2 separate regions of the Homo sapiens genome follow, and region 1 is linked to region 2. Evidence: fine-mapped expression QTL. A gene starts in region 2. The other region holds a variant in brackets. All regions are shown on one strand. Distances are from middle to middle.

Region 1 (5,370 bases), 68 kb after region 2:
CGGTTGTTCAAGTGGATACATTTACCATTTACAGCCATACCACCCTGAACTTGGAAGCTAAGCAGGGTTGGGTCTGGTTAGCACTTGGAAGGGAGGAGTTCACCTTTATCAAAAAGTCATCAATCTTTACACTTGGAATGAATGCATTTTATGGCCGGGCGCGGTGGCTCATGCCTGTAACCCCAGCACTTTGGGAGGCTGAATTGGGCGAATCACCTGAGGTAAGGAGTTCAAGACCAGCCTGGCCAACATGGTGAAACCCCATCTCCATTAAAATACAAAAATTAGCCAGGTGTGGTGGCGGGTGCCTGTGGTCCGAGCTACTCGGGAGGCTGAAGCAGGAGAATTGCTTCAACCCAGGAGGCAGAGATTGCAGTGAGCTGAGATTGCATCACTTCACTCCAGCCTGGGTGACAGAGTGAGACTCCGTCTGAAAAAAAAAAAAGAATGGGTGCATTTTATGTATGTAAATTACAACTCACGGTTGATTAAAAAGAAAAAAGCAATGCATATCTGTGCTGAAAATCATTGAGGTGACAATGAAAACAGAGAGTAAGACTTTCTCTAAGTCATCATTACACATCTCTCTCTCACCTCTCCGGTGGACTTCTTTCCTTCTTCTCCCCCTCCTCCTCCTTTTTGTCCTCCTACACTCCACACTGGTCACCCTCTCCTCTTTTGTTGACTGTCTTTTCCCTATTCTTTATGAAATAGGGTAATCTGGCTTGCTCCTGATGATGCAGGACAGGCAAGCCCCAAAAGTGAGGCTTAGCCCAAGAGAGTTTTTGGCTTTGCCCAGGAAAGAATTTAAGGGTGAGCTGGTGGTGTTAGCAATTTTTATTGACGCATTGATGCACAGCAGCAGCAGAGGTGCTGCTCCATGCGGAGCGGGGCTACCCCATAGGCAATGTGCCCAGAGAAGCAGCTCAGAGGCAGGTCTGCAGTCACATGCATACCCACTTTTAGTTATATGCAAATTAAGGGGAGGTTTATGCAGAAATTTTTAGGAAAAGGATGGTAACTTCCCGGTGGTTAGGTTGTTGCCATGGAAAGGGGCGGTAACTCCCCTGGGTGTTGCCATGGCAATGGGAAACTGACAGGGCCCACTGGTGGGCACTGACGGAAAGCTGCTTCCACTCATCCCTGTTTTAGCTAGTCCTCAATTTTGTCCGGTGTCCCAGGCCTGCCCGCAGAGTCGAGTCCCGCCTCCTACCTCACTATCAGTTTGAATTTCTAATGTTTGAGTTACACATTTTCCCCCCCTTTTTGTGGAGAATAGGTTCTAGCTATATTGCCCAGGCAGGTCTGAACTCCTGGGCTCAAGATATCTGCCCGCCTCTGCCTCTCTAAGAACTGGGATTCCAGGCGTGAGCCACAGCGCCCCGTGAGTTTCTAATGTTTGAAAGGGATTTTGAGCTCAAAATCAGTATCCTTGGGTTTGAATTTATTTACAGTTGATCAAAACTTTAAATTTTAAAAAATCCAATTTTTTCCTTTTAAGCCTTCAGGTCCAATTTACACAGTTTGTTATTCTAGTTATACATTTAATAATTTGGGGCCGGGCACGGTGGCTTACACCTGTAATCCCAGTGAGAGGTGACAGTGTGCTGGCAGCCCTTGCTCGCTCTGGGTGCCTCCTCTGCCTGGGCTCCCACTTCGGTGGCACTTGAGGAGCCCTTCAGCCCACCGCTGCACTGTGGGAGCCCCTTTCTGGGCTGGCCAAGGTCGGAGCCGGCTCCCTCAGCTTGCAGGGAGGTGTGGAGGGAGAGGCGCAAGCAGGAACCGGGGCTGCACGCTCGGCCCTTGTGGGCCAGCTGGAGTTCCGGGTGGGCGTGGACTTGGCAGGCCTTGCACTCGCACTCAGAGCGGCCTGCCGGCCCTGCTGGCCCCGGGCAATGAGGGGCTTAGCATCCGGGCCAGCGGCTGCAGAGGGTGTGCTGGGTTCCCCAGCAGTGCCGGCCCACTGGCACTGTGCTCCATTTCTTGCTGGGCCTTAGCTGCCTCCCCACGGGGCAGGGCTCGGGACCTGCAGCCTGCCATGCCTGAGCCTCCCCTCCTGTGGGCTCCTGTGCGGCCCAAGCCTCCTCGACGAGCACTGCCTCCTGCTCCACGCACCCAGTCCCATCGACCACCCAAGGGCTGAGGAGTGCAGGCACACGGCACGGGACTGGCAGGCAGCTCCACCTGCAGCCCTGGTGCGGGATCCACTGGGTGAAGCCAGCTAGGCTCCTGAGTCTGGTGGGGACTTGGAGAACCTTTATGTCTAGGCTAGGGGATTGTAAATACACCAATTGGCACTCTGTATCTGGCTCAGGGTTTGTGAATGCACCAATCGACACTCTGTATCTAGCTACTCTGGTGGAGACTTGGAGAACCTTTATGTCTAGCTAAGGGATTGTAAATACACCAATCATCACTCTGTATCTAGCTCAAGGTTTGTAAACACACCAGTCAGCACCCTGTGTCTAGCTCAGGGTTTGTGAATGCACCAATTGACACTTTGTATCTAGCTACTCTGGTGGGGACTTGGAGAACCTTTGTGTGGACACTCTGTATCTAGCTAATCTAGTGGGGACATGGAGAACTTTTTTGTCTAGCTCAGGGATTGTAAACGCACCAATCAGCACCCTGTCAAAAACGGACCAATCAGCTCTCTGTAAAATGGACCAATCGGCTCTCTGTAAAATGGACCAATCGGCTCTCTGTAAAATGGACCAATCAGCAGGATATGGGTGGGGCCAGATAAGAGAATAAAAGCAGGCTGCTGGAGCCAACAGTGGCAACCCGCTGAGATCACCTTCCACATTGTGGAAGATTTGTTGTTGTACGGTTTTCAGGTTGTACAGATCTTACTGCTGTCTCTCTTTGGGTCCACATTGCCTTTATGAGCTGTAACACTCATCTGGAAGGTCTGCGTCTTCACTCTTGAAGCCAGTGAGGCCATGAACTCACCAGGAGGAATGAATAACTCCACACGCGCCCC[C/T]TTAAGAGCTGTAACACTCACCGCGAAGGTCCGCAGCTTCAGTCCTCAGCCAGCGAAACCACAAACCCACCAGAAGGAAGAAACTCCAAACACATCCAAACAGCAGAAGGCAGCAGAAGGAACGAACTCCGCACACACTGTTTTTAAGAACTGTGACACTCACCGCGAGGGTGCACAGCTTCATTCTTTAAGTCAGTGAGACCAAGAACCCACCAATTCCGCACCCACCAGCACTTTGGGAGGTCGAGGCCAGCGGATTGTCTGAGCTGAAGAGTTCGAGATCAATCTGGGTAATACGGTGAAACCCAATCTTTACTAAAATACAAAAAATTAGCGGGGAATGGCGGCCTGCGCCTGTAATCCCACTCCGGAGGCTGAGGCGGAAGAATTGTTTGAACCTGGGCGGTGGAGGTTGCAGTGAACTGAGATTGTGCCATTGCACTCCAACGTGGGCAACAGCAAGACTGTCTCTCAACAAAATAATAATAAGAATAATCACTTTCACGTATTATCTAATTTTTAATTACCTCACTTTTGAGAAGTCAAATTTGCCTAAGCATAAAACATCTAATTGATTACATTTCTAAACACTTCTAATGCCTGAGGGGGCAGACGTGCAACTCTAAAAAAACAATATCTTCCTATGCATTAAAACAACTTGTAAAGCAAATAAACCAAATTTACCAATGTGGTAATTCATGTGCTTTTTTTTTTTTTTTTTTTTTTTTTTTTTTTTTTTTTTTTGGGGTTGGAGTAGCCTTGCTCTGTCTCCCAGGCTGGAGTGCAGTGGCACGATCTCAGCTCACTGCAACCTCCACCACCCACGTTCAAGCGATTATCCTGCTTCATCCACCCCAGTAGCTGGGACTACAGGCTTGCGCCACCATGTCCGGATGTCCGGCTAATTTTTGTAGTTTCAGTAGAGACAGGATTTCACCGTATTGGTGAGGCTGGTCTCGAACTCCTGACCTCAAATGATCCTCCCACCTCGGCGTCCCAAACTGCTGGAATTACAGGCGTGAGCCACCGCACCCCGCCCTAATTCAGGTTCTTTTAAGTTTTACAAAAATGTTATAATGTTTACAAATTTAATCAAGTTCCTTAAGCCTTTCAATGTTAAATCATACCTAGAAAATTGTGCATTTAAATTGAAAAAAACAGCTGGGTTCCAAGATTTGAGGGAGAGTAAAAACCAAAACCAAAAGAAACAGCTGGGTGTAGGCGTGGTGGCAAGTGTCTGTAGTCCCAGCTACACAGGAGGCCTAGATGAGAGGATCATTTGAGCCCAGGTAGTAGAGGCTGCAGTGAGCCATAGCCGTGCCATTGCATTCCAGCCCGGGTGACAGAGCAAGACTCTTGTCTCTTAAAAAAAATTGAAATTACAAGGCAAATCTGAAAGATTCTCTAATGTGACAGGTTGAAAGAATGTTACGTTCTCTTAAACATTAGAGACATTTAAAATATGCAATACAGACACATTATCCTGATGACTTTTAACACTAAATTATAAATACTATGGGTTTGATTACCTTATCATTTCCATATTATTTCTTTACCCTCAGGGATGTAAAGTCATCTGTCCCACTCCGAACAGTTTGACCATGTCAGGTGGACAGAGGATTTCTACATTAAAAATAAATGAAGACTGAGATTTAGGGTTAGTGATTCAAGGCTGAGATTTGGGACCAGGTTGCTGCTTTTTTTTTTTTTTTGACAGAGTCTTGCTCTGTTGCCCAGGCTGGAGTGCAATGGTGTGATCTTGGTTCACTGCAACCTCCGCCTCTTGGGTTCAAGCGATTCTCCTGCCTCAGCCTCCTGAGTAACTGGGATTATAGGCGCGCGCCACCACGGGTGGCTAATTTTTTTTTTTATTAGAGATGGGGTTTCACCATATTGGCCAGGCTGGTCTTGGACTCCTGACCTCGTGATCCGCCCACCTCAGCCTCCTAAAGCACTGGGATTAGAGGCGTGAGCCACCGCACCAGGCCCAGGTTGCTTCTTTTCTTGTAGTTGAGCCTGTCTGTTTTATCAGCAGCAGTCCCCAAGTTCACCCCTTTCAGTGGGAATTTGTTTTATAACTCACTTTGTCTAATTGTTCGCTCATGATTAGGTTCAAGTTAAGTCTTTTTGGCAAGGATACTCCATGAGTGATGATGTACGCTTCCCATTGCATCACATCAGGAGCACATTATGGCATTTGGTCTCATTACTGGTGTGCCAAGTTTGATCACTTAGTTAATGTGGTGTCTGCCAGAGCGCTCCACCTTTTCACTTTGTAATTTATCAAAGATGGGTTTTTATGTTCTCATATTTAGTCTTTTCATAGACTCTTTTGTCTAACAGAGACAATTATAAAGCACATAATTTGAGTTTGCACTCCCTGGATT
Region 2 (5,370 bases):
TGTAGTGGCATTTTGCTTGAGGCAACTTCCATGTTGCTGGTGGGACGCTTTGGCTATGAGGGGAAGAGTCTTATCTACAGGCTGTGAAGAGGGCTGCCTGTCTGGATGTCACTCAGTGTGGCTAGATTGGCCAGAAGCTGGGTCTGTAGGCAAGGGTTTAGGGAGGAGCCCACCTTTGATGTCCCTCTTTTTAACTTGGGGCAAGTTGTGATCTCAGGTTCTTCCTGAAAAGATAAGGTACTTTCTAAGATACCTTCTCTTAAGCTACAAACAGTGCAGGTCTTCCTCTTAGAAGAGGTGTGTTCCGTAAGGGGAGAAGGTGTGCCCTCTGGCCTCCCCTTGATTTTCAACCCCAGCCCCAAGGCACTGGTAGTGGAAGTTAATTGGGTGCAAGGGGCTTGGGTAAAGGCTGAAGACTGGTGAAAGGAGAGAGCCAGCTTCGTTTTTTAAAAAGCTCTAATTGAGTTCTGAATCAGCCTCACTCCCTTTGATCCCTCCTCTGTTTCCCACACTGCCTGAAAGAGCTAGATCAGCACTTTATAACAAGGGTGCGCCTGCTCCCCGCACCGCCCCCCGCTCCTGACGCTCTCTGCTGCCGCCATCCACTGCTTGTCTCCTTCAGTTAAGATAATGAAGATGCTGAGAGATAAAATGTGTATTTAATAAGGGTGGGGGTAGGGAGGCGGAAAGGGGCAACCAGGGCCTTCCCTAGTTTGGGGCCTCGCCAAGACTTAAGCTGAAAGCAAAGCTAGAGTAAGACTTGGCCCCAGGGTGTGGGGGTTTCTGGGCCTCAATCCAGCTGACTTCACTGCCTGCTGTTTGCCCTAAATTCCCCCACCTCCACCCTCTCACCCCCACACTGCTTTCTTCTTGCTCCCAATGGGAAAAAGGACTCTTGCTTCAACTTTCTTTTCAGCTGGTAACTTGGCCTTTGGTGCGGTGCCCCCCACCCCAGTGTCAGCTGCAAGGTCGGGCTAGGGCAGCCCCCTCTAGCCTAGGCCTGTAGAAGCTGTGGGTTCACAGTGGGGGGTGAAAAAGCTGGAGTTAATGAAGACCAGCTGCTAGTCTGGGTTCTGCCTACAGCTAGCTGGAGGCCAGCCTTTGGTGGTGGTTGATGGGGGGGTGGGGTGACCTCCATCCATGGGCACAAGGATATCCTGTGGCAGCTAGGCTTGTGCTTCTCTCTGAGCTTAGTTTTATCCTTAGTTTATAAGAGAGTATCTGTTTCCTTCCCCTACTCCTCTCCTCCCCAAATAACACTCAGCTCTTATTGAACTTTATAACTGTAGTGGTGGCCCAGCTGAGATCTGAGGATCTCCAAACCCTTTTGTAAACACTCATTAACTGCCTGGGAAGAACGAAGAGCCCTGTTTAACAGCTGGGAGAGAACTGAGGCACATTAGGGTGAAAGGTTTGACCTAAACTCACCCCATGGACTCCACCCTGGGGCCTTCCATCCTTAGTCCAGCTCCTTTACTCAGTTCTTCCTGCAAGACAGAGGTGGAGGCATTGCTGGTGTCTTCTCCCCTTCTAGGGAGAGGCCATGCCCTCTCCCCTCAAGTCTGTCGCTGACTTCCTCTGGCCCTTCCCCTCATGACGTTTTCCCTGCTCTGCTGCTAGAGATATGTGCAACTCTCCTTGCAAAATGTTCTCAATCCACAACTTCAGAATTCTTATCCAGCTTTCTCTTGCCCATCTAGCCCACCAAACCTGAATTCTCCCTTTTGAGCTACTGAGAAGACTGGCTATACTAAACTGAATCAGTGACCTTGAAGTTGATCTGTTGTATTGAGGTCCCTCTGCCCCTATATTTATCCTAAATGGTATCTAGGAAAATATTCTCTCTTTAACTTGTTTATTCTGGTCATAAAGATTCGGGACATTACTGAGGGCTGGGTAGGGGCACTAGTTGACCTCTAGGTTCTACGTCCTGTTCTTCCACTGACAATTACCATTTCCAGTAATAGGTGTAACCCAAAGTTCTTTTTTGTTTTTTTCTCCTTCCCTAACCCCACCTGTTTATACTCTTGCCTATATATGTGTATTTGCAGACCCCACACATTCCCAGATACACATACATTGGTCCTACATGTTTCCCCTGTTTCCAGCTGCCATCTAAGTGAGCCTGCACTTTTTACATGCTGAAAATCTTTTTTCACCCTCTATGGCCTCCTAGGTCCTTGGGAATAATTGGGAGGGATGAAGGGACTCCTGCAGTCCATGAGGAAGAGGACAGAAGTGAGCGCCCAACCAAAATGAATGCTCCCTTTCCAAAATCTCTAGCTGAATGCCTTAGCAGGAGTGGCAGGGAAAGAGATCTTAACCCCACCTCCAGCACCAAAACCTAAATCCATCTGCTCAGGGCAGGCAGGAAGAAATGTCTATTTTCTCCTGTTTCAGGTCATCCTATCCTCGAGTTATCCATATGCTGTGTATTTGAGACAGGGAACTGTTCCTGTCCCCAGCCGATGACCAGACGCCCATCTTTCTTCCAGTGGGTTACTTCTCCCCCATCAGTCCTTCGCTCTGCGCCCGCTGACCCAGTCGGGGCTGGCTGGTGGAAGAGGGCGGGGAGAGCCTTCTAGTTGGCGAGTGGGCTTTAGGACCCAACGGGAACCCGTGCCTCTTGCAGCAGCCTAACCCAGAAGCAGGGGGGAATCCTGAATCGAGCTGAGAGGGCTTCCCCGGTTCTCCTGGGAACCCCATCGGCCCCCTGCCAGCACACACCTGAGCAGGTAGGACCATGCACACCCCTTCCCAATTCTTTGGCCGCCTTTGACCCCGGCCTCTGCTTCTGATCTAGCCATTTCCTTCTCGCCAGTTCTGGCTTTCCCCATCCCTCCTCTCCCGTCGCTCACTGTAGTCCTGGGAGGTGGGAGCCTGGGAACAGTGGGGTGTCTGAAAGCTCAGAGCCCTCTGCACCCTCCAGCACCCTTCCTGCATTTCTCCTGAGGCAGTTCCCGTTCTCTAGATAAGAGTGGGGAGTAGGGGGAAGGTCTGCCCAGGCCCCACGCCCTTGCACCCTCCTTTGCGGTATTGCCTAATACCCCTTCCCCCACCTCACCTAGACTGGAGAATTGGCAAGTGCTGAGGTAACAGAGAGAGGAGAGAGCCAGAGAGGGACCTGAGCTTTCCCAAGGGATTTCTTTCTTGCTTCCTCACCCAAAGAGCTCAGGACTTTGCCCCTACTCCCTACACACCTTGTAGGGGAACTAATGTCCCCTTCCAGGTTCATCTCACACTTGGGTGGCTAAAGGCTTTGCTAGAGGGTAGTGGAGGTTGTGAGCATTTTGGTGAGCTTTTCCTCTAGGAAAGTTCTTTCAGCTTAGAGCCCCCATCCATGTCAACATTTCAACACCTGCTGCAGAAGCCCCCCGACCCCACCTGTGTGTGTGTGTGTGTAGGGACAATGTGGTTGTAAGATCTAGAAGCTTTGGATAGAGGTGGCTGCATGCATTGAAGGGGAGGGATACCAGAGTGTGGCCCAGGCCAGAACAGGCTCAGTCCAGATGGCTAGGGAAGGGGGTGTGGACCAGATTGAGGAGGTCACCCAGCCTTGCCAGCTCCCTGAGCTTCTTGGCTTTCAGAATCTCAGGCTCCTGGTGTTTCTCTAGAGCTACAAGGTCCCCAAGCTTCTGCCCCGCTACAGGCTCTCTGGGAGAGGGCTAGATGGCACCTACTGTTTACAGTGGCTTATTTTTCTCTCCTGTGGTGGGCAGACAGGCCCTGCTCTCTGAAGATCTAGGGCGTGTCATTCTGGTTTGGTGGGTTTACAGGAAGGGTGTACACCTTGTCTGACTTACCATGTGTGAGTGTGTGTCTTGCTTCTGGGGGTAGTAGACTGGGGAGGGGGGTGATAGAAGAGACTGGTCACACTGAGGGAACTCCTCTAGCAATCAATGTATGATAGGAATGGGTGGCATGTCCCCATCTGGTAGCTCTGTCTAGGTGTGGGGTGTGCTCTGCATTCTTCCATGGCTCCCCGGGTCCCCTAAAGGTTGGTTTTAGAGGACAGGGTGGATAATGAATTGGCTTCAGACTTCGTTCTGGTCTTGATCCAACAAGGAAAGTAGAGATTCTGACTGTGAGCAGTGAACTAGGAATCAGAGGCCTGAACTGGAGACTTAGACTGGTTACTTAACTATATGTGTTTATATAGGTCTTCCCCTTTGCTAAGCCTTAGTTTCTCCATTTGTAAAAATGGCTATCAGTAGCAAGCAGGGACATTGCCACTAAAACCACAGAGACAATGTATCGTAAAGCTCACTGCAAACGGTAGTAATGGCTGGGGGAATCTAGGATGGAATCCTCTTCCTAAATCTAGGTCAATCTCTCCGCCTTTAGTTTTCTTCCCCCATCCTTTGCCCATCTGGGGGATGGAGGAACTAGGCAGGGCTATTGCCCCGGTTACTGCAGAATTCCCCTAATGCAGGTTGTAGCTGTTACCAGAGCACCTGTGGTCACAGAGTACAGATCTCTCCACCAGGCATTTCTTCCTCTGGGGCCCCATACTTGCTCCCCTGAGCCATGTCTCCACCTTCCTTCTGCCATCCCTGCTTGGCGTCCTTGTCTCTCTCTCCCCTGCCCAGTGGCCTCCTTGTCTGGCTCACTGGGCAGGAGCCCTAATCGGATTCGACAGCTGAGATATGTGTGGCGGCTAAGAGCAGGCAGGAGGGAAGCCAGTGGGAGGATGGTATGAGGACTGCCCCTGGCACTGCCCCGGCCTCCCAAGCACCACCTTGGGCCTGCTGATTTCTTACTTGGCTTGGCCCCAAGGAAGGGGTGCCAGAGGAAGCTCAGGAATGAACAGGCTGGGGTCTGGAGACTAGGAGAGGAGGAAACACACCAAGGTCCTCAGGACCTGGTTGATATTCGATGACCTTAATGTCAGTGTCACTGACTCTGACAAGGAGGAAAGGACAGCGATGAGCCAGGCTGACCCCCGCCACCCCATTCCCATAGCCCCACTTTCTTCTCTCTTCTTGTTCAGAAATGTTTCACTTTGCCTCATCTAGCCCCTTTGGCCAGTAGGTCACATCTGGGAGCTTCTGGGGGTGCCACATGTCTGCCTCAATCTGGGCTGTTTCCTCCCCTCCAAGATATTTCACTGTCTCTGGGCTGGGCGCCAGGACTCCTGGGTTTCCCTGCCTGTGGTGCAGGGCTCCCCTGCAGGGCTCCAGAGAGTCGCTTAGCTGGTTTCCTTCCTCCTTTGTGGGGAGGGCCTTCCCCTAGGGCTGGGAGGTGTCAGGAATCCCAGGTGGGACAGGGGTGGGGGCACAGTAGCCTCTGGCACTGTAGCACCCCAGCTTCTCCCTCCTAGCCTCTGACTCAGCTTGGGGGCAGCACATGCCCAGCCTGGCAGGCATGGCC

What was found. PIP is the estimated chance that this variant, and not a neighbour inherited with it, causes the effect. A credible set is the group of variants that fine-mapping cannot tell apart.
Region 1: its variant is the best candidate, but not a certain one, in a credible set for the expression of RARA in whole blood (INTERVAL, PIP 0.80).

What each region holds. Positions count from the first base shown.
Region 1 is chr17:40,374,063-40,379,432 of GRCh38, forward strand. It overlaps the pseudogene RNA5SP441. Among named protein-coding and RNA genes, the nearest start is that of GJD3, 12 kb to the left of the region's middle. The variant C/T (reference allele first, on the strand shown) is at 2,984.
Region 2 is chr17:40,306,552-40,311,921 of GRCh38, forward strand. RARA (retinoic acid receptor alpha) reads left to right here and starts at 2,629. Exons shown (of 9, transcript NM_000964.4): 1 at 2,629-2,735. RefSeq lists enhancers at 2,056-2,941, 2,321-2,490, 2,501-2,630, 2,942-3,825.